Linked DNA regions of Homo sapiens: regions 1, 3, 4, 5, 6 and 7 are each reported to be linked to region 2. Evidence: microRNA targets listed by miRTarBase, many of them from high-throughput screens and not tested one by one. Region 2 holds a microRNA gene; each other region holds the end of a gene's coding sequence.

Region 1 (3,083 bases), not on the chromosome of region 2:
AATATTACATATACAATTCATGTATACTAATCATAGAGCATATTAAAGATATTTTAGAAGACTAGAAACTTCTATTAAACCAAGTTTCTGGATGTTTCCGTATTCATCCTTATTTTCCAGGGACCTGCATAACTTTTCCAGCGTGTAATAGCTACCTGATTGATATTTTTTGAATTGAAATACTGAAGTGACTAAAATCTAAACTTTTTCCATTCTGGCCATAGGATGCTTATAGAATTTTATGAGTCACCAGATCCAGAAAGAAGAAAAAGATTTCCTGGGAAAAGTGTTAATTCCAAATTAAGTATCAAGAAGACTTTACCATCAATGTTGATCTTAAGTGGTTTGACTGCAGGCATGCTTATGACCGATGCTGGAAGGAAGCTGTATGTGAACACCTGGATATATGGAACCCTACTTGGCTGCCTGTGGGTTACTATTAAAGCATAGACAAGTAGCTGTCTCCAGACAGTGGGATGTGCTACATTGTCTATTTTTGGCGGCTGCACATGACATCAAATTGTTTCCTGAATTTATTAAGGAGTGTAAATAAAGCCTTGTTGATTGAAGATTGGATAATAGAATTTGTGACGAAAGCTGATATGCAATGGTCTTGGGCAAACATACCTGGTTGTACAACTTTAGCATCGGGGCTGCTGGAAGGGTAAAAGCTAAATGGAGTTTCTCCTGCTCTGTCCATTTCCTATGAACTAATGACAACTTGAGAAGGCTGGGAGGATTGTGTATTTTGCAAGTCAGATGGCTGCATTTTTGAGCATTAATTTGCAGCGTATTTCACTTTTTCTGTTATTTTCAATTTATTACAACTTGACAGCTCCAAGCTCTTATTACTAAAGTATTTAGTATCTTGCAGCTAGTTAATATTTCATCTTTTGCTTATTTCTACAAGTCAGTGAAATAAATTGTATTTAGGAAGTGTCAGGATGTTCAAAGGAAAGGGTAAAAAGTGTTCATGGGGAAAAAGCTCTGTTTAGCACATGATTTTATTGTATTGCGTTATTAGCTGATTTTACTCATTTTATATTTGCAAAATAAATTTCTAATATTTATTGAAATTGCTTAATTTGCACACCCTGTACACACAGAAAATGGTATAAAATATGAGAACGAAGTTTAAAATTGTGACTCTGATTCATTATAGCAGAACTTTAAATTTCCCAGCTTTTTGAAGATTTAAGCTACACTATTAGTACTTCCCTTTGTCTGTGCCATAAGTGCTTGAAAACGTTAAGGTTTTCTGTTTTGTTTTGTTTTTTTAATATCAAAAGAGTCGGTGTGAACCTTGGTTGGACCCCAAGTTCACAAGATTTTTAAGGTGATGAGAGCCTGCAGACATTCTGCCTAGATTTACTAGCGTGTGCCTTTTGCCTGCTTCTCTTTGATTTCACAGAATATTCATTCAGAAGTCGCGTTTCTGTAGTGTGGTGGATTCCCACTGGGCTCTGGTCCTTCCCTTGGATCCCGTCAGTGGTGCTGCTCAGCGGCTTGCACGCAGACTTGCTAGGAAGAAATGCAGAGCCAGCCTGTGCTGCCCACTTTCAGAGTTGAACTCTTTAAGCCCTTGTGAGTGGGCTTCACCAGCTACTGCAGAGGCATTTTGCATTTGTCTGTGTCAAGAAGTTCACCTTCTCAAGCCAGTGAAATACAGACTTAATTTGTCATGACTGAACGAATTTGTTTATTTCCCATTAGGTTTAGTGGAGCTACACATTAATATGTATCGCCTTAGAGCAAGAGCTGTGTTCCAGGAACCAGATCACGATTTTTAGCCATGGAACAATATATCCCATGGGAGAAGACCTTTCAGTGTGAACTGTTCTATTTTTGTGTTATAATTTAAACTTCGATTTCCTCATAGTCCTTTAAGTTGACATTTCTGCTTACTGCTACTGGATTTTTGCTGCAGAAATATATCAGTGGCCCACATTAAACATACCAGTTGGATCATGATAAGCAAAATGAAAGAAATAATGATTAAGGGAAAATTAAGTGACTGTGTTACACTGCTTCTCCCATGCCAGAGAATAAACTCTTTCAAGCATCATCTTTGAAGAGTCGTGTGGTGTGAATTGGTTTGTGTACATTAGAATGTATGCACACATCCATGGACACTCAGGATATAGTTGGCCTAATAATCGGGGCATGGGTAAAACTTATGAAAATTTCCTCATGCTGAATTGTAATTTTCTCTTACCTGTAAAGTAAAATTTAGATCAATTCCATGTCTTTGTTAAGTACAGGGATTTAATATATTTTGAATATAATGGGTATGTTCTAAATTTGAACTTTGAGAGGCAATACTGTTGGAATTATGTGGATTCTAACTCATTTTAACAAGGTAGCCTGACCTGCATAAGATCACTTGAATGTTAGGTTTCATAGAACTATACTAATCTTCTCACAAAAGGTCTATAAAATACAGTCGTTGAAAAAAATTTTGTATCAAAATGTTTGGAAAATTAGAAGCTTCTCCTTAACCTGTATTGATACTGACTTGAATTATTTTCTAAAATTAAGAGCCGTATACCTACCTGTAAGTCTTTTCACATATCATTTAAACTTTTGTTTGTATTATTACTGATTTACAGCTTAGTTATTAATTTTTCTTTATAAGAATGCCGTCGATGTGCATGCTTTTATGTTTTTCAGAAAAGGGTGTGTTTGGATGAAAGTAAAAAAAAAAATAAAATCTTTCACTGTCTCTAATGGCTGTGCTGTTTAACATTTTTTGACCCTAAAATTCACCAACAGTCTCCCAGTACATAAAATAGGCTTAATGACTGGCCCTGCATTCTTCACAATATTTTTCCCTAAGCTTTGAGCAAAGTTTTAAAAAAATACACTAAAATAATCAAAACTGTTAAGCAGTATATTAGTTTGGTTATATAAATTCATCTGCAATTTATAAGATGCATGGCCGATGTTAATTTGCTTGGCAATTCTGTAATCATTAAGTGATCTCAGTGAAACATGTCAAATGCCTTAAATTAACTAAGTTGGTGAATAAAAGTGCCGATCTGGCTAACTCTTACACCATACATACTGATAGTTTTTCATATGTT
Region 2 (3,083 bases):
GCGATCTCAGCTCGCTGCAACCTCCGCCTCCCGGGTTCAAGTAATTCTCCTGCCTCAGCCTCCCAGGTAGCTGGGACTACAGGTGCATGCCACCATGCCTGGCTAATTTTTTGTATTTTTAGTAGAGACAGGGTTTCACCATGTTAGCCAGGATGGGTCTTGATCTCCTGACCTTGTAAGCCACCGTGCCCGGCCTATTCTTTATTCTTTTGAGACAGAGTCCTGCTCTTGTTGCCCAGGCTGGAGTGCAATGGTGCAATCTCGGCTCACTGCAATCTCAGCCTCCTGGGTTCAAGCGATGCTCTTGCCTCAGCCTCCCAAGTAGCTGGTATTACAGGTGCCCACCAACACGCCCGGCTAATTTTTGTATTTTTAGTAGAGTTGGGACTTCACCATGTTAGTCAGGCTGGTCTCGAACTCCTGACCTCAAGTGATCTGCCTGCCTCATCCTCCCAAAGTGCTGGGATTACAGGTGTGAACCACCACGCCCGGCCAGGATTCTGTTTTTAAACTTATTTCAGTGGATTATTGATGATCATCTCACATTTTGCAGTAAGGTTTTTTTTAGGCCGGTGGCTACATAGTGGCTCATGCCTGTAATCCCAGCACTTAGGGAGGCCTAGGAGAGTGGATCACTTGAGCACAGAAGTTCGAGATTAGCCTGGGCAACTTGGGAAAACCCCGTCTCTACAAAAAATACAAAAATTAGCCAGGTGTGATGGGACGCGCCTGTAGTCCCAGCCACTTGTAAGGCTGAGGTGGGAGGATTGCTTGAGCCCTGGAGGTCTAGGGTGATCACACCACTGCACTCCAACCTGGGTGACAGAGCGAGGCTCCATCTCAAAAAAACAAAAAAGATTTTTCTAATGTCATTCCACAAGGATAGCTTATACTGCTATTTTGGCTGTGCCTATCTCAGAGCAGAATGGGCGGAAGTCCTTTTTTCCATTTTTTTTTTTTTTTAATGAGACTCTTCTGCCTGTATTGATTTTTAGTTAAGTATGTCATTTCTACTTTTCATGCCTGTATTTCAGAAGTGGTTTTCTAAGGAAGCAGTGTAGTTAATGATTTTGGAAAAGAATGTAAAACCTTAGGATCCTGAGGAAACATGTCTATGTGATCATCCGAATGACTGGTTTATTTCTTCTGTTGGGATGTTTTTCTGAGTGATTAAATGAGGATTCTCCAAATGTGGTGCAAGATGAGGCAAATGTGTGGCACTTGTAGCTTTGCTGCCAAGCCTCTGCTGTGAGGATGTTCCCTTTCCTGTCTCAAGTGCATCCTGAAGAGTTCCTCCAGCGCTCCGTTTCCTTTTGCCTGATTCCAGGCTGAGGTAGTAGTTTGTACAGTTTGAGGGTCTATGATACCACCCGGTACAGGAGATAACTGTACAGGCCACTGCCTTGCCAGGAACAGCGCGCCAGCTGCCAAGTGGGGCTGAGAGGATGGCGTCACCCTGCTCATCTCTGGGAAACCAGGTAATGGGGAGGAAGTCTTTTTCTTCTTAGGGCAGGTGAGTCATTGTTAGCAGTAGAATAACTAGAAATACTTCGTAGTTGTCATTCAAGAAGTTTGAAGATGTTTTCAAGGAAAATTGTGTAGTGTTCAAGTTATGGAATATACAAATATCCCTATTCCCCTATTCCCCCTCCCAAGTTAAATGCCCTCTTATTAGAAAGCACCCCTGTGAACCCCTGGGATGACTCGATGCTTTCAACCCCTTTATTCCTATGTTCTGTTTGCCTTCAGAATGTTCTTTCTATGGTTTTCTTTCTGCATTTTGGTACCATTTTCCCTTAGCTGTTTCTCAACAATTTTTCCTTATTCCTAGTCTTTTTAAGGGGATAATACTTTTCTATTTTGCAGTTTTATTCTTTATGGCACTTCATTTCTCTACCGCCACCATGTTTTTTGTTTGTTTACTCTTTCAGATAGAATCATTTGGTTAAGAGTGTCTTATTTTTCCACAAGCACAAATCTCTGATTGTTCCTTTCTTTAATATTGTCAAAATCTCACTGCTATTACTCATTGGTATAAGAATTTGATTTTTTTAATGTCTTAAGATCTTTTTAACCCAGATCTTGACATCACTTCTCTGACGTTTTGTTTATTTTCATTGTAATTTGTGTGTCCAATTGAAGAATGTTCAAATGAGTTGAGGGTGGGTCAACATACTGATGGAGAACTCTAGACAAAAATTGCTGCCAGGGTTCAACCTGATCTTCAGTTTAACTGCCATGGCTGCTCACCTCTTTAAGTCTGTTAGCTCAACAGCCACATATTTTTCTTTAAGGTTTGCCATTCTGTGGACACTAGACCAGTATCTAAAATTATTATGTGTGCTTTACTTGTTTTTGTTTTTTGACCAGGGTATATTTGCAGGGTGGGAGTTGCATTGTAATTATGAAGAAACCAAATTGGTAATAAAAGGTCATTTCAAACATTGCTTTCTATGCTGTCAACTTAAGAACTCTGCTTTTGAGTTAGGTGAAATCTACATACCCACTCTTCAGCTGCAGAGTAGAATTATTCACCATTATTTATTCATGCCTTGCTTGGGATATAGAATACAATGGATTATTTGACCTTGTCTTTTTAAGATGAAAATGTAAAGTAAATTTCTTTTAAATAGTATGATATCATCATACCTTGTTTGTCTTTTTACAGATACTATTCGTTACTTGTCCTTGCATGACAACAAATACATCAGATACTTTCCTGGACATAGCAAAAGGTAAGACCCACGTATTATAGAAGCAGATAGTTCTTTTATCCCTGAGGTTACCCAGAGAATAGAAGGCTAGAGAGAGCTTATTAGTGAACTGAAGCTACTTCCTCACTACTGCTTGGCATTCTTCATCTTCTCTTAAATAGTCAACTCTTGATTTACTGAGGTTATAGAGGTGCAGAGGTAGGTGTTCAGAGATACCTCAGTTAAAATATAACTAGGCCCAGTGCAGTGGCTCACACCTGTAATCCCAGCACTTTGGGAGGCCGCGGCGGGCGGATCACTTGAGGCCGGGAGTTTGAAACCAGCCAGGCCAACGTGTCAAAACCCCATCTCTACTAAAAATACAAAAAT
Region 3 (3,083 bases), not on the chromosome of region 2:
TGCCAATTGTGCAAATTACACAAGAATTTCATGAGCAGGGAAGGGACAGAATCAAACCTATTCTGGGGTGTGGACAGAGCAGAATGGCCTACTGAAGCCTGGAGTAAGGTGCAGTCCACAGAGCTTCCACAGGCATTAGGCCTCCTCTGTCAGCCCCAAACCCCAAAGATGCAGCCCCAAACCCCAAAGATGCACCCTCTTCCTTCTTCAGGTTCCCTAAAACTCCCACGTGATCTTCCACACTCCTGGTGTTGCCACAACCACATTGTCCTCCTGATAAACTTTGCCTGGTACTGATCACCCAAGGCAGTAGCCCCAGGACTCTTGCACCTCTTCAGCACCTAACACGGCTTGGAGGATCCACAGAGCTACATCAATATTACACAGATGCGACTGATGTCCTGCGGACCTCAAGAGCTGTGGGCAGCCGTAGAGTTCATCTCTCATCTCCATCCCCATTTACAAATGAGCAACTAAAGCTCAGAGAACTAAGACTGTTAGGGGCAGAGGTGACAGGATGCCCTGTTGGCTGCCTCTTAGGCCTGGTGTCTTCCCCACACATCACACAGCTGTCTAAATTCCCCAGGCAAGTCATGATCTGTACACAGTATGAAGCTGGGAGTGTGGGTGGTGATGGGAGGGAGGTGATACCCCATGGAAGACCTGTGCCTACCTTGGGGACTTATGGAAAGATGGATTGTTCTTTTCCAAGGCTGCAAGGTGGAGTCCGTCCACCTGAATGTGGAGGCCGTGAACACACACCGGGAGAAGCCTGAGGTAGGTGGGGGACTCCATTACCCAAGCTGGCTGTGGACACAGCACATGGTGGAAGCACCTTCTCCACAGAAAGACTGCCCCAACCCCACCGAGCCTGGGTGTTTTGCACCAAAAGGTGGAAAAAACAGCACCCAGAAATGCAGGAACTACAGCCCAGACCTGAGGCATCATGGAGATGCAGGGCTGGTGCAATCCCTGCCAAAAAGGCCTCAGGCTGAGATTTCCTCCAGGCCTACCTGAGGGTCAGGATCCAGGCCTGGCTGAAAGAGGGGAGCCTGGCAATGAGGACAACAGGCAGGGGAGGCGTTGGGGCCCTGCACTGCTGTCTCCTTCCTATTAATCCTGGGCTCTCTCCTCAGAATGTGGACATCACTCAGGAACCTAAGGAAGCTGTGGACACCATCCCTACCCACTACCAAACCCTTCCCAGGAGGCCAAATTGCCTTTGCTCTTTTTTGTGCCCCAGGAGCTCCCGTCTCTGCCCTTGTCCACATGTCCAGATACCACCAAGCACCCAAGGAAGTCATGGCCTAGGCCTAATTTTGTCCTCAGTGGGAGAGCCTTGCTTCCAGCATAGAACTCAGCAGCTCAAGCCAAGTTCCTGCTCACAGTCACAGTCAAAGCCTGTGCATGGAGCTTTGTCTTACTTTGTAATTCTTGTTCTTGAGGTAACAAAGTCTTCTCTTTCTCCCTGCAGGAGAGAAGAGGCCATTGTGAGGCCTCCTTCACTGCCCATAAGATCCTGTCTCGAGGAGGCAGCCCCGGTCCTGTGCAAGTGGGAAGATTGTGAGGGCCTCCTAGAGGGACAGGATCCTGGGCAGCATTTCCAGAGATGGGGAGGAGTGCCTGTGAGCCCATCCCTTTATGAGCAATGTGGCTAGGGGTATATCTTCCTTCTCACAGAGGAGACTCTGGCATCTAACTCATAGTGTTCTCTACTCCTACTCCTGCTGCCCTCCTGGAGTTCTTTCACTTTCCACATGGGTTGTATAACCAACACCCTAGAATCACAGGCCATGGACCCCTTATCTCCAGAATAGTCACCTTCTGTCCCCTTCAACTACCTACTCTCTGGACCTTATCATCACCTGGAGCTCCACCTCCTCTGTGTTCTTAAGTGCAACTGTCTGAGCACCAATACCCTCTCTCACTATGCGACTTCTCGCAATGTCACTCCAAGACACCTAGCAGCATATCTATCACATGAGAGTCACTTAAGTGATATTTATTGAATAAACTATACTAGTTCTTGGGTCTCGTGTTCATTGATCCTGCCTTTGTATCCCAATCCAGTAGCTAGATCTTCCCACATTTCCACCTGCTGAAAGCTGATCTACCCTTCAAACTACAGCTGAGGTCCTGTCTCTCCCACATAAACATGTTGCTCGCTCCCCAAATATAGGGAAAAAAAGAAGCAGAGAGCACATCTAATTCACTTTGCAATTTCAATGTTTATTTCTGATACCAAAACTTGACAGCACACAAGGGGAAAAAAAGCAGTAGACAAGGAACAGCAAATAAATTTATCTTGCATGCCACTTTCAGTCAACAGGATGTGGCTCTCTAGATAGCTGTGTTTAGAAGGAATCTGAGGCTTCAGCCTCACACAGGGGAAAGACTACTGCGATTGATAGCAATATCTGTGAACATAAGAAAGAAGAAGTAAAAAAATCAATGATATATATCAAATAATAAGGAATATACATACCAAAGAGTGCTGCCCCATACTTTCCTCATCTCCCTACAATGAGTTTCCTAATACTTCTAGCTCATGCACATAAATACAACCCCATGGACCCTATATCCCCCAGAGACCCTAACTGCCCAATCCAAAGTGATGTACCTACCCAACATCTCACTCAACCCAGAAGAAACCAATGGCACCAAAGTTGGCAGCGAAGTTGGCACTGGCTGTACCACCAGGACCAATAATGGGACCGGCAAAGGTCTGAGGGAATCTGGAGCGGGCATTCTGGTGGTATCTGGCCCAGAAGGTAAATGGAATTCTGGACCAGGGATCTCCAAAATCTCCTTCCTCATCCCAGGTCAGCAGCTCAAACTCAATGTCATCCCAGCTCCAGGGCCCAGACACAGCCTCATCTCCAATTCCCATGCGGGTTCTTGCTTCAGCCCGGGCTTCGGCCTCAGCTGCAGCAGCATCCAGAGCATCCAAGGCCTCATCTGCAGCCTCCATGAACTGTGCAGTCCAGTCACGAGGGTCTCTTTTCTGAACCTGAGATGAGGAATAGAAAACAAAACAAAATCCATTTACAATAGCCAAGATATGGAATCAACCTACCTGTCCA
Region 4 (3,083 bases), not on the chromosome of region 2:
AGAAGTCCAGTAAATGTTTCAAGTGCAGTTAACATAACCAGCCCAATGAACATAGGGCATCCTGTAACTATAACCAGTCCATTATCCATGACCTCTCCTTTAACACTCACTACCCCAGTCAACCTCCCCACCCCCGTCACTGCCCCAGTGAATATAGCACACCCTGTCACCATCACATCTCCAATGAATCTACCCACACCTATGACATTAGCCGCCCCTCTCAATATAGCAATGAGACCTGTAGAGAGCATGCCTTTCTTGCCCCAAGCTTTGCCTACATCACCGCCTTGGTAAACAGTATTATAAAATCAAAATATGGGTAAAAGTAAATATTTACCAGCAACTTAACTTTTAGTTGATTAAAGCAAAAAGTAAACCATGAAATTGGGAGATTTTATTACATTAGTTAATAAGAGTGTGGTAGCATTTTTCTCCAATTTGGCTGGGATTATTCAAAGTAGGGTGTGTATGTAACTTATCACTGGACCACTTTAGTTTAATCAGAAATTCCTTTTAGCTGACAACATTGCTTAAACAGGATAGTAGTTGGCAAGATGAAATGCCAGAATTAAAACCAATCATAAGTAGAACCCACTTCAAAATAAAAAAACAGCATTACTATTTCTAATCCCAAGGAATCACTTTATTGTAAACACTAGCAGAACTCTTCTCCCTATACAAGGTGGATGGCTGATTTTAACCTGAAATTTTAAATCCACAGATTGAGAGCTAGTGTAGAATTGTCTGTGTTTATTGTTTTTATGAGTAAATACATGCATTGTCATAATAAAATGCATTTCAGAGAATATGCATTTTACCTTTGGGAATATGTTAATTTCAGGCAGCATTCCCTATGGGAAAGGTGATACCAGCTCTGATATGCAAAGCATATGATAATTTATCATTCTAACTTCAACGTATAATAGGGATTGTGACCTGATATTTGGAGATGTAAATATTGCTCAGCATATTAATCCCGATGGAATATAGCATTGTAGTTGACTTTTTAAAAAAAAAAAAAATTTAAAAAAAATCTACAAATTGTGTTTTGCTAAGAAAAGCCTCAACTGACAGAGGAGAAGTCAAGTGTGTGGACAGGCAAGCTCCTAATAAACAGAGTCCAGTGGGATTCCTATTTAGGAGCCAAGGAGTACTTTGGAACAGTACAAATATATTGCTTTAAATTGGAAGACGCTGGAGGCACTGGGATGTGATATGCCCCTCTCTCTCCCAATCAGAGCCTGTTGATATTACAACAGGGACAGATGTGTTAGTTGCTCACTAGAGTTTATGTCTTATATTAAATTGTATACAGTTTTTATTCTAACCACTAACTAGGTAGTGTATGCCCCTTCAGAACATGCAGAGTGTATCTTTTTTTAAATTTCTCCTTCCGTTTCTTAAGTATTGCGCAGATTTGTTCAACTTTGTAAATATGGACATCACTTTTTTTTTCTTTGAGAAAACACTTGTATCAGCTTTGTGGTGTTTTCAGGGAGACAGCTGTCTGCATTCCCTGTAGAAACCCAGCAATGATTATGCACGTTGAGACATGTGCTTTTTATTTCTTAGCAAGATATTTTATCTCTGTACATAAAGTAGAAACCAAAAGCTAGGGAAACAGATACTCTTTACACCATCATGCCACGCATTGTTTTTAAAGCATTGCGTTAAAAAAAAAATTAACTAAACCAAGATGCTGTGATTTTTTAAGTTGCAATATGTTTTTGGTTTTTTTCATTTTTTAATCATTGCAGTTAAGAGAAATGGAAATTAGTTGTGTTAATCTTGCAGAATGTTTGCAGGACTGACTATCAAACTGGATGATTTCCATTTATACCCTACTGTGTCAGTTCAAGCATCAAAATACCTTGCATCTGAGACAGACTTCCTACATCAGGGACAGGTATCTGTGTGTCATTATACAAAACAGTTCTAGGGGGTTGAACTACATAGTAAAAAAATAAAATAAATAGTACTTAGTGTAAAATAATTTTATAAATGATCTTTTGTACTTTAGGACATTAAATTGTACAACTTTTGTATATATAAAAGCTTAGGAACTTTCTGTTTAGCAGGAAGGCAACACATTCCTACACTTTTAATGTATATGTTTGTTATAATGTCCATGTAAACATGCCCTATGTTTGTGCCTTTTAATTAGTTTGTCTCAATAAACAAAATGTAGAGAAAAATATGTAGCTATGACTTTGTTACAACTGTTCTTATCCACAGTACAAAAATGGTTTGTTTTTAATATGTAGAGCATTATGTGTGGACTACTGGAAGGACTCGTGTAGGGAAAGCCCAAGAATGACCTTGCTGAGGCCTGGATTGGGAGGCACAGTGGCCACATTTGGAGGAAGTTCACATTTCCTGGCATGCAGACCCAAAACTGGGTTCTGGCTCTGCCTGCTGGGATCTGTTATCTCTGGTGGGCTGGCAGTCATAATTCACAATTCAGACAGCCCAGGCTTCCTCCACAGTGGTCCAAGGAGCAGTCCTCAGTGGGGGCAGGTGTGGGCCCTACCCCTAAGCTAGAATGTGGTTGTCAGAACCCTGAAAGTATTAGTTCTAAAAAAAAAAAGATATATACTAGAAGTAATTGTTTTATCAATTCATTGTATAATAAACAGGAGTGAGACTTCATTGTATGACTTCAGTTAAAATACTATTTTGTATGCATTCTTTATTCACTTAAGAAGCTTGTCTGCAATAATAAAGCCACGTCATGTCTTCTTTTGGGAGGGAGAGAGTCGATGGCAGGAGGGGGTTTTGGGTGGGCCACTGAAAAGGGGTACCGAATAGGTTGTGTGATGAAATTCTGTGTCTTGGAACTGGAATTGAGTTTCGATGTTGATGAACTGATTCAACCAGGTGTTGAAGGCACGACAGCCACTGCTCTACGAAAAGGCAGAGTACGTTTTTCCCTTCTGGTTGTAACCTGGTTGAGAGCTTCCCCTTTATCAGATTGGCAGCTAAACAGTTGTATTAGATAATCCTTAAATCTGACATCCAGCCTGTTACGCTCTAGGGCTCGCTGCTTGGCCTGCGTTTGCTTTTTATTGTGTATCCGTTCCCCT
Region 5 (3,083 bases), not on the chromosome of region 2:
GGACCCACACAAAAACCTAAACAATTGGAAACATGGCCAGATCTCAGGCCTGTGCCAGCGCCAGCCATGGGGGTCCCACCCGCTGGGCACAGTGCCCACGGGAAGGCCAGCTGGACTCTAGCACTAGGGGCAGAGTCTCTGAGGGGGCGGGGTTCTCGCAGGAGGGAGGGAGAGAATGGGGATGCCCTTTCTTCTCCATGGGAACAAGGTGGGTGGTGGCTGCCCGGCACCCTGGCTCTTTGGGAGCTGGACCCTTGAGGGGCCAGGTCACTGGGCCAGGTAGGAGTGAGATGGGACCTGCCCCAGCTGTTCTCAGTATCGCCTCTTTTTCATCCTGTTTCAGTCCTGGTTCCTCTGATAAGATCGACAAAAGAAACAACAAAATGAGAAGAAGAGGTTCCTCGAAAGGGGGGAGAAGAAATTTTGAGAATGGAAAAATCCCCCAGCCCAGCCCAGCCCCACCGAAAAGCAAAAATTACACGTCGTCAGCCACTCAGCCCTTCTCTCCTCCAGCCCGGGGACCCCCGCGGGCCCCAGAAGCAGCCCAGTTCTCAGAGAGCCCTTGGAAGGGGTCTCGGTGGAGCTGTGCACCAGCAGCCAAGCAGAAAGAAACACGCGACATGGACTCTGTCAAGTAGAGGACAGAAAGCAAGAAAGGATGCAGAACTGCCTTCCTCCCCCTGACCCCGCCCCGGCCTTCTGGGGAAGGAACAAAGTCCCCAAACAAAGCAACCAGCACAATTCTGAAGGGGCCTGGCCTCCACCCTCACCCCTTCCTAGGGGAACCCCACCCTCCACACAGCCGGAGCTGCCCTAGGGAGCCTGGAGGGCCAGCTTGTAAAGATGATGGGGTTTAGATCCCTCAGGCTCTCCCCTCCAGACTCCGCCCTTCCCTCCCTCCCTCCCTCCCTCCCTCTCTGCCAAGGCTCCAGCTTCTTCCCCCAGCTGCTCCCGACCAGGAGGGGGAGAGCAGCCTCCACTTACCCCACCCCACCCTTGGGCTAAAAGCCCCCAGGCGGGCAGGGGGTGACCCCTGGAGCTAGTTGCGTGTCCCAGAATGGAGGGTGTTCTGACACCCCACCCTGAGCCGCAAGAGCAGTCCTGGGGCCCTGGACCCCTCTGTACAGTCCGTAGGAAAAAGTCGGAATGCTCTCGACGGCCTCGTCCCAGCCTGGGACAGGCCCCCTTTCCCCTCTCTCTGCAGGCCAGGAGGGCCTCCTTCCTGCCACGAGGGAGGGGAGTCGGGCCCCAGGTCGCCCCCGCCCCCAGCCCTGCATGCAGGTGCCCTCGCTCCGCCCCATCAGTTCCTGCCCCTGCCCCTCATGCAGACTGCCCTGCTGGGGCCGGGCCGGAGGGTGGAGCAGAAAGGGGACCCCGGAGCCGAGCGAGGAGGACCAGGCAGCCGCCGCTGCCGCGCTAAGCCACCACCTGCGCTTAGGTAGGCGTCCTGCTCGCCGACTTTCAGTTCCTTGGGAGGGTGTTGGGTGTCGTCCTTTTCAAAAGTGTTTTGGAGCTTTCTGTGCCCCCCGACTTTCCCCCGCCTCCCCGCCCCCCACGTGGCCACTTTTCTCTGGATTTTAGCTGTAATGTCTTTACTCTTTATTTAGGGGTGGGGCATTCATTGTTTGGGTCTTTTGCTGTTGGAATGGGAACTCCTCCTCCATTTGAGCAACTTGGGAACAATTTGGTAACACACCACAGGAAGTAGCTCTCCCCCCCAGCCCCCTCCTCCCTCAAGGGAGGGTTGGGGGGCCTGTCCAGAGGGTCTTCAGAAGCCCCCCTGGGAGGGAGGGGAGGATGAGCACGCCCAGCTCCCCTCCAGGGTGTGACTTGGCCCCTCTGGCTTGTCTTTCTGTGCCTTACTCCTCCTCCTGCGTCTCCCGTTCCTGGCCCCTTCTTGAGTCCTTGTGCCTCTCTCTTTCTCTCTCTTTCTTAATTGTATGAAAACACAAAGCACAGGTCAGGATCCTCTGAGAGAAAATCAACATTGCACCACGTAGGGGTGGGCTATGGGCTGTATTTATTGTGAATCTAGTTTGTGAGGCTGTGGCCCCGAGCTGGCGGAGGGAGGGAAGAGGAGGGAGTGACGGGAGGGGAGGAGGTCAGCGACCTGGGGCCGTAGCGGCAGGCGAACGGTGCCTGCTACCCAGCTGGAAGCCACAAGGTGGCTGGCTCCAGGGGCGGCTTTTGTTGGAAGTTGAGTGAAGCCCTCCCCCTGTCCTCAGCGTGCAGCCCTAGAGGACCCCAGGGCTGAGGGGCAGTGGATCCTGCGGGAGTCTCCCGGGGCGTGGGGAGTAAGGCCCCGGGGGTGGGGGGCCGGGTGGGCCGGGCGTGACGCGCGGTCAAAGTGCAATGATTTTTCAGTTCGGTTGGCTAAACAGGGTCAGAGCTGAGAGCGAAGCAGAAGGGGCTCCCTGTCCGGCCCACGTGCCCTTTCCCTCGACGACAGTCGAGGGCTCGGGCTCTGTGGGACTGTGGGAGCTAGGGTCTGCGGGGCGCCTGCCCGGGCGAGGTCGGAAGCTGCAGGCCAGCTGGGCCCGGGCCGGAGCGTGCCCGGCGGGGCTGCCCGGGCGGGCAGGGGGTGGGGGCTGCTCCTTTCCCAAGTGGTGTTGTGAGGGGCAATGAGGGCAACAGGAGATGTGGGGACGTGTTAGGAGAGAAAAAAAAAAAAACAAAAATATATATGGGGGAAATTAACTTTTTTTTTTCATTGAACCAAGTGCAATGCATCAGAGAGTTTTCCTATCTTTGTATGTTAAGAGATTAAGAAAAAAAAATTCTATTTTTGTTGTAATGTCCTCGCGGCTCTGGGGACGCTAAAAGAACCGGGCCTGCCCCGCCCTGCGCGGGGATAACGAAAGCTGAGTGTTTTTCCCTTTTTTTTGTTCGTTTTTAGTTTTTTTTTTTTTAAGTCGTTTTCCTGCGTTGACGAGGATGATCTGGGGTTTTTATTTGTTTCGTCGTTCGTTCTGTTTCGGTGGGAGGGCTGAAGGAAACGTTCACATTTTAGAGTTTAAAAAAAACACCTCGACATTTAAAAAATCAACCAACACAAGATCAAAAAGGAAAAGGACGAGAGAAAA
Region 6 (3,080 bases), not on the chromosome of region 2:
CCTCAAAGTGGCCCTTTTGCAGAAGGATTGCATCAACATTTATATTTTTTTCCCTAAAGTACTTTGTTACGCAGGTGAGCTTGGGTGATGTAAGTTACAATTAACTCCTTCATCTCCTATCCTGGTTGCTGCCATTCTTCTCTATTTTTGGCCAGGGTGTGGATATTGGTGGAGGAGACTAGACTTCTCTTAGCCCGTGTGAGAGGTAGACATTGAGATCCTTCTGAAATGCATCCAGCCATTCTTGCTTTCTTCACTGTCAAGATAACTTTCAGCACATTATTATTCCATTTAAGCGAGGATACCATATTCCTAAAGGGTGTTTCAGAACCCACACACTGGAAGCAATAAGAAACCCTGCTGCAAAATCATCCTCATCTGTGACTTTCTTCTTTCCCCTTCCTTTGTCCTTAGGGAAGTGTGAAATCGGCTGGGCCTACTACTGCACGGGAGCAGGTGCCACTGCCGCCATGCTGCTGTGCACGTGGCTGGCTTGCTTTTCGGGCAAGAAACAGAAGCACTACCCATACTGAGATGGAGCTACCAAGAGCAGACAGAGGAGAAGATGGGCCAAAGGGGCTTGGAGAGGTCAAAACATCCACCTACCTTCAAAAGGTGGGATAGTAGTTCTAATCCAATACAATGCTAATAAAATGAAACCCGATAAAATCAGGAACATGATATAGGAAGGAAGGATTGTAGGAGATTTGTGGGGGAAAAAAAAGGAGAGTATAGAATGATGGAGAAAAATGGACCAAAGGCTAAAAATATTGCAGGGCATCGGGTGTTTCTATTCCACAGAGTATTGTTAATGTACAACACACACACACACACACACACACACACACACACACACACACACACAACAAATCTACATATACAAACAAGGGTTTGGGTTTTAGTTTTTTTTTTTTAAGGTGAGGACTCAGAAAATCAAAGGGCTAGTAGAAACAGTGTTATGTTGGGAAGCAGGGTACCCCCAAAGATGTTCCCTGTAGGTCACGGCACTCCCAAAAGCACACAAGCACATACAGACATATGCATCCCCACACACGCCTATGCACAAACGTGGATTATCGCACAGACTGGGAGGTTTAGTGGTGCATTTCTCCTCTGTTTTCTTTTTAATATACATTTAAAATACAGTATTATCACTTTATAAAACATACATTAAGCCTAATAAATGGACCAATAAGCCAAACTATCAGTATTTTGTATATCCTGCATAAACTCTAATTTAGTTCCTCAACATATTTTCAGTGTTTATGCAGACCTTTAGAGTTAAGCCTTTGTATTTCCATGTTATTCCACAATATGCAATATTTCTCTGAGTAGCTTCTGCTATGATATTCTTATGAAGAAAAGGGGCAACTTTCTGTCCACTATAGGAGAGAATTCAGCCGAAGATATGAGAGTAATGAGAGACATTTTCCAGTCATTGGATCGTGTTTTCTTTTGTCCATTATTGTACTGTGCTGTACCACATTTATTTCTATATTCATTTTGTAAAAAATTTAAAAGTGCTATTTTGTTTGTATTTGAAAATCTCTGTGAATAAATTCTCTCTTTGATCAATAGCTAGATGAGTCATGGAGTGTTAATTCAGTCATCGGATTTGCTTCTTTAATTTCTCCAATGTAGCTCTTCAACTACTATAGTCCTGTAAAATTTCCTTTTCTCTTTTAAGGCCTCTCATTAATTCACTCACTAATCAACCAGGCATTGTTCTAGGCACAAGTGTATTAAAGATGAGTAAGACAGTTTCTGCTTTCAACGTGAATTCTTTGCAACCAGAATTCTAACTTCCTGCTTGTTACATTTCAATCATAACCAAATTCTGAGGACAGAAGAACTTCAGGTCTGTTTTGTATTAAGTTTGAGAATATGGGTGGTATTCAGATGTGATTTAGGGCAACAAGAGCTAGACTGTGGTTCAGGAGGTGACTGGACTGACAGTCACCAGCATGGTGACACGACTGTTACAGTTGCCAGTGACTTGCTGTTCCTCCAGCTTCTACAAAGTGCTGGGTTTCTTCTGTACTTCTGTGTCAGGGAAAATTTTATATCACTGCCCTTCAGGGATGTTGGCCATTTGAAAAAGCTTATCTCAACAGCCCTGCCCCTCCAGCAGAAAGTCTTCACCAAAGAGAAAGGTTTGGACCCTCACATGGCCCCTTAACAGAACTAGCTCTTTCAGGGCTAGGTGTGATGGCTCACACCTGTAATCCCAGCCGAGGTGGGGAAATCACATGAGGCCAGGAGTTCGAGACCAGCCTGGCCAACATGGCAAGACTCCATCTCTACTAAAAATACCAAAAAAAAAAAAAAATTATTAGCTGGGCATAGTCATGCACTCCTGTAATCCCAACTACTCAGGTTGAGGCACAAGAATCGCTTGAACCCAGGAGGTGGAGGCTGCAGTAAGCCGAGATTGCAACACTGCACTCCAGCCTAGGCAACAGAGCGAGACCCTGTCCCCACCAAAAAAATAAATAAATAATAACAAATAACAAAAACTAGCTCCTTCAGGAGCAAAGATTGCATTCTGAATATTGGATCTAGCCTTTTGTTTAGTAAGCCTGAGATATTGTAGCAAATCCTTAAGAATTCAGTTTCAGTTAGCTTCTACATTCATTGTACTTTTCAGATTTGGCAATTGAACATGCTGGCTATTTATTCATGTAAGTACATTTTCTATGCTATCTATACACATTTATCAATTTAGTTTGAATATCTGACTATTCCACTTGCTTCTGGTACTTTTAATCATTCCAGGATGAGAAGCCATGCTGCTCTGGAAGAACAATACAGGATCTGACCAATAAAATTCTACACTCTGAGGCTTTGTTGGTGTGGAGAAAGTCATTCCACTCTCAGATGCTTAATTCATATTGTGCTGAATGTGATTTGATTGTGTCTCATTGTCTGCTGAGCAGGGGCTTCTCCACTCTGTGGTTTCCGGCAGAGAAGAAAAGATTGCACTTTGCTTCCTCAATTAGCCCATTATTTTCATGTATAGCTGGTGCTTTTCAAATTTCTTTTAACTGCACCTTCCTGTAGAGTAGTGTTGTGACTTCTTA
Region 7 (3,083 bases), not on the chromosome of region 2:
AGGGATGTGGGAAAGGCAAGGAGAGGTTAGGGATTTTCTTCCCACTGGGAAGTTTACCTTAGACTCACTGTATTCTTTATATGTGGAAAGGAAGTAAGATATTTCATGAGTTGCACAAAATCAAGTCACTAGGATAAAACTTCTAATTTTATTCTTTACTGGGCTTTATATAATAAATATACATCCTCTCATGTTGAAGATTTATATACTGTTGGGAAAAATGTTTTAAGCTCATTGGAAGAGGGGAGACCATAACATTTCACTTTCTTAAACAGGTAGCAAATAATGAATATATATGAATACAATAAACGTATCTCAAAAAGAATGATACAACTTTTATTTTCCATGGATTTTACAGATACTTTTGCTACATAGTTTATGTATTTTTATGAGATTTTTTTCATTTGTATGAAGTTCATTCAGCCTTATACAATTTTAAGGTGATATGTTTGGTAGTGTATCTATAATCTTTAAAAAGTTTAGAGTTTTTGGAATGTACAGTATATGAGGTAAAATCAAGATTACATTAAAAATTGTTTTCTCCTCTGCACTAATTTTGCAGTGAGGCTCAAATGGCAAGTATACTATTAAATGACATTTACTATCAAAAATAGGAAGTTCATTTGAATTACTATGAAAAACATAAGCCACTGTAACTTGACACAGTGGCACATTTTACCATTTTAGACATTCAACTATATATAAATCTCTGGGCTATTACACTCAGACTCATTTGTACTGCCAAATGTGGCACTTTAAAGAAGTTTCTAGAAAACAATCGCAATCACTGTTGTTTCTGGGGAAGGTTATCACCCTATACATAAGAGATTAAATTTAAATAAAATGTAAACATACAGTATATTATAGTGACAGGTCATTCTTACCACTTAGAAAGGCCAAGTTTATCCATTTCTTTTTTGAACAAGGGTTAATGTTTTTCTACAGCACAGATCATTTGACATAAAACTGTTACAATACATGCCCATTCTATTATAAAAGAAATTCTTCAGAGATCTTCAAAGCACAAAAAATACGTTCTTTTTTCAAAGACTGACAGAAGTGCTTAATAATCACTAAAATGCCAACCTCAGCAACTAAAAATTAGTGATTCGCTATCCTAAAATTCAAATAATAAATTAAAAAAGCTAGTTACAGGTGTTTTACGGATAACAGATGTGCTAAAACAAGAATTGTAGATAGTTTCATTATAAACTGTATTATTACTTGCAGTCATCGACATCTAGGCAAGATGTACAATGTGATACTTGACAAAATTCAGTCTGATCATCCAATAACTCACAAATGCAAGCTCACAAAACATTAATGAATTATGCAATTGCAAAGTGCTCTAATGCAACATTAACCACATGCAATCAACAATTTGGAACAGTATCCAAACAGACATTATACGTTAAACGTTTAGTTTTCAAGAAAGAAAGCAGCTTGAAGTTTACTGGTGCAAATTAATTTTGTCTTCAGATTTGGTGCCCCAAACAAAAAGGTTAGGTTTGATTATGAATTCTGATGGTGGTGGCAGCAGTTATGGGAGAAGCAGCAGAAACTTATGGGAGTTCTTCAAAATTAGCCTATACCAGACAGAGTGAGTGTATGTATGTAATATATACTTCTACACTTGTTATGTGTATATGTGTACACTTGTTATATGCCATATATGTATGTGTATACCCTTATACACATACATATAGTTCAAAGGTTCACAAAACAGAAGCCAAATAGGTTTGAAATTCAATTTACTTTTATGATTACTTTCTAAAAAGTATTTAAAAGCACTCAATTCTTTTCCATGTTCTCAAGACCTGAAGAGGTACTTTTTGAGTAAACATCAAAATATTTTTAGGCCAAGTAAACTGTCTGTTCTTTAAGTACTTATCTGTGAATTCATGAATATATATTTATAATGAAGAACTCCACATTTATCAAAGAAGCTTTTCTTCATGCATACTCTTTCATCCAGTTTTTGTTTCTAAGCCCCTCCAGTTACTCATCATAATCCCACTTACCAAATAATTAAGACAAATGAGGAGGTAGAAATATAGCACTAGATTGCTTTCACAGCATCAGACTTTAACATTTTATATAGCATGTTAGTGTAAATTCTATTCATTCTGAATTTTTCACTTGGTAATAATCTTTAAAACAAACAGATCAGGTTATCACTGTTACACTCATGCCGATTCGTCAAAATATCCATTCTAAATTGTTGCCTCTTAGAAAGTTTTTCTATAAGAAGGCATTTGTTAAAAAAAGAGAGAGGGAAAGAAAAAAAGAAGACCCACCCTAACAAAAAAAACAAAATTGATATTTTTGTGGCTTGCATTCTAATAAAGTGCCAGCCTCTACCTAACAATATAAGCACTGAAAATGGCAAAAATGATGTGCTATAGTCTCAATGCCAGTGCTAAATGCCACTGTTTTTTATAAAAGCAATACAGAAATAATTTTAGTACATGACAAAATAAAATGTAATAGAGTTAAAAAATAAAGTTATATTTTCACTTGATTACAAAGTACTGAATGATAAAGGCAATCAAAATGGAAAAGAAAGCAAACAGCACAAGGATGACGGCAGCACACTGCTCGTCACTCAGTGCCCGTCGGGTCCTTGTGCTTTCCACAGTGTCTCTGTTGGTGCTGGCTGGTGGTTCAGTCCTCTGAGAGATGAAGAGCACTGTGGTGCTGTAGGGACCTACGAGGTCCTGGTGTCCCAGAGAGTCTTGGCACTGGCGAATGGCACATACACGGAAGCGATATTCACAGTTCAGCTGAAGGCTGGAATACCGGAAGGAAGAGTCGGGACCCTTGTAAATCTGTTAATAAAATATTAGAAGGAAGAATTACGTGTGAAGGCTGGACAGAAAATGTGTTAAAACTGGCTAGTGTTAGAATTGTTTTTCATGTGAAAGCCAGTGAATGCCATTGATTTTATCTTTTAAATGACATGTTAAAAATACCTGTCCATTAAAGTACTTATCTGTTTGTTGCATAGGGGCAAGAGAAATTTCAAAAGCGAGGATCTACCCTTATACGGTTCACAGATGAATTAAGGAGTGCAGATGTGCCCC

What was found. The annotated mature microRNA hsa-let-7g-3p reads CUGUACAGGCCACUGCCUUGC and lies in region 2 at 1,387-1,407, shown strand. An mRNA with a match to its seed (bases 2 to 7 or 8) in the 3' UTR can be bound and repressed. Matches are read on the target gene's strand: a 7mer-m8 pairs with bases 2 to 8, a 7mer-A1 pairs with bases 2 to 7 and ends in A, and an 8mer does both.
Region 1: miRTarBase lists AGPAT5 as a target of hsa-let-7g-3p. Seed matches in the 3' UTR shown: 7mer-A1 at 633-639 and 7mer-m8 at 1,095-1,101.
Region 3: miRTarBase lists MAGED1 as a target of hsa-let-7g-3p. The part of its 3' UTR that is shown has no 7-base or 8-base seed match.
Region 4: miRTarBase lists VEZF1 as a target of hsa-let-7g-3p. Seed matches in the 3' UTR shown: 7mer-m8 at 1,588-1,594 and 7mer-A1 at 2,031-2,037.
Region 5: miRTarBase lists NFIX as a target of hsa-let-7g-3p. Seed matches in the 3' UTR shown: 7mer-m8 at 1,120-1,126.
Region 6: the mRNA of LHFPL6 is a reported target of hsa-let-7g-3p. Seed matches in the 3' UTR shown: 7mer-A1 at 813-819.
Region 7: the mRNA of FNDC3A is a reported target of hsa-let-7g-3p. Seed matches in the 3' UTR shown: 7mer-m8 at 495-501.

The regions. Positions count from the first base shown.
Region 1 is chr8:6,756,939-6,760,021 of GRCh38, forward strand. AGPAT5 (1-acylglycerol-3-phosphate O-acyltransferase 5) reads left to right here. Exons shown (of 8, transcript NM_018361.5): 8 at 225-3,083. The coding sequence ends at 450. Among named protein-coding and RNA genes, the nearest start is that of MIR4659B, 13 kb to the left of the region's middle.
Region 2 is chr3:52,266,604-52,269,686 of GRCh38, reverse strand. MIRLET7G (microRNA let-7g) reads left to right here and starts at 1,326; the gene lies at 1,326-1,409. It overlaps WDR82 (WD repeat domain 82), which reads left to right. Exons shown (of 9, transcript NM_025222.4): 3 at 2,669-2,735.
Region 3 is chrX:51,901,480-51,904,562 of GRCh38, reverse strand. It overlaps MAGED1 (MAGE family member D1), which reads right to left. Exons shown (of 13, transcript NM_006986.4): 12 at 2,625-3,010; 13 at 2,209-2,417. The coding sequence ends at 2,633. Among named protein-coding and RNA genes, the nearest start is that of MAGED1, 9.4 kb to the right of the region's middle.
Region 4 is chr17:57,971,684-57,974,766 of GRCh38, reverse strand. It overlaps VEZF1 (vascular endothelial zinc finger 1), which reads left to right. Exons shown (of 6, transcript NM_007146.3): 6 at 1-3,083. The coding sequence ends at 294. Among named protein-coding and RNA genes, the nearest start is that of VEZF1, 15 kb to the left of the region's middle.
Region 5 is chr19:13,094,292-13,097,374 of GRCh38, forward strand. It overlaps NFIX (nuclear factor I X), which reads left to right. Exons shown (of 11, transcript NM_001365902.3): 11 at 344-3,083. The coding sequence ends at 358. Among named protein-coding and RNA genes, the nearest start is that of LYL1, 7.0 kb to the right of the region's middle. RefSeq lists a silencer at 1,227-1,316 and an enhancer at 1,628-2,491.
Region 6 is chr13:39,341,389-39,344,468 of GRCh38, reverse strand. It overlaps LHFPL6 (LHFPL tetraspan subfamily member 6), which reads left to right. Exons shown (of 4, transcript NM_005780.3): 4 at 415-1,577. The coding sequence ends at 533. Among named protein-coding and RNA genes, the nearest start is that of LHFPL6, 260 kb to the left of the region's middle.
Region 7 is chr13:49,206,826-49,209,908 of GRCh38, reverse strand. FNDC3A (fibronectin type III domain containing 3A) reads right to left here. Exons shown (of 26, transcript NM_001079673.2): 26 at 130-2,828. The coding sequence ends at 2,514. Among named protein-coding and RNA genes, the nearest start is that of MLNR, 12 kb to the left of the region's middle.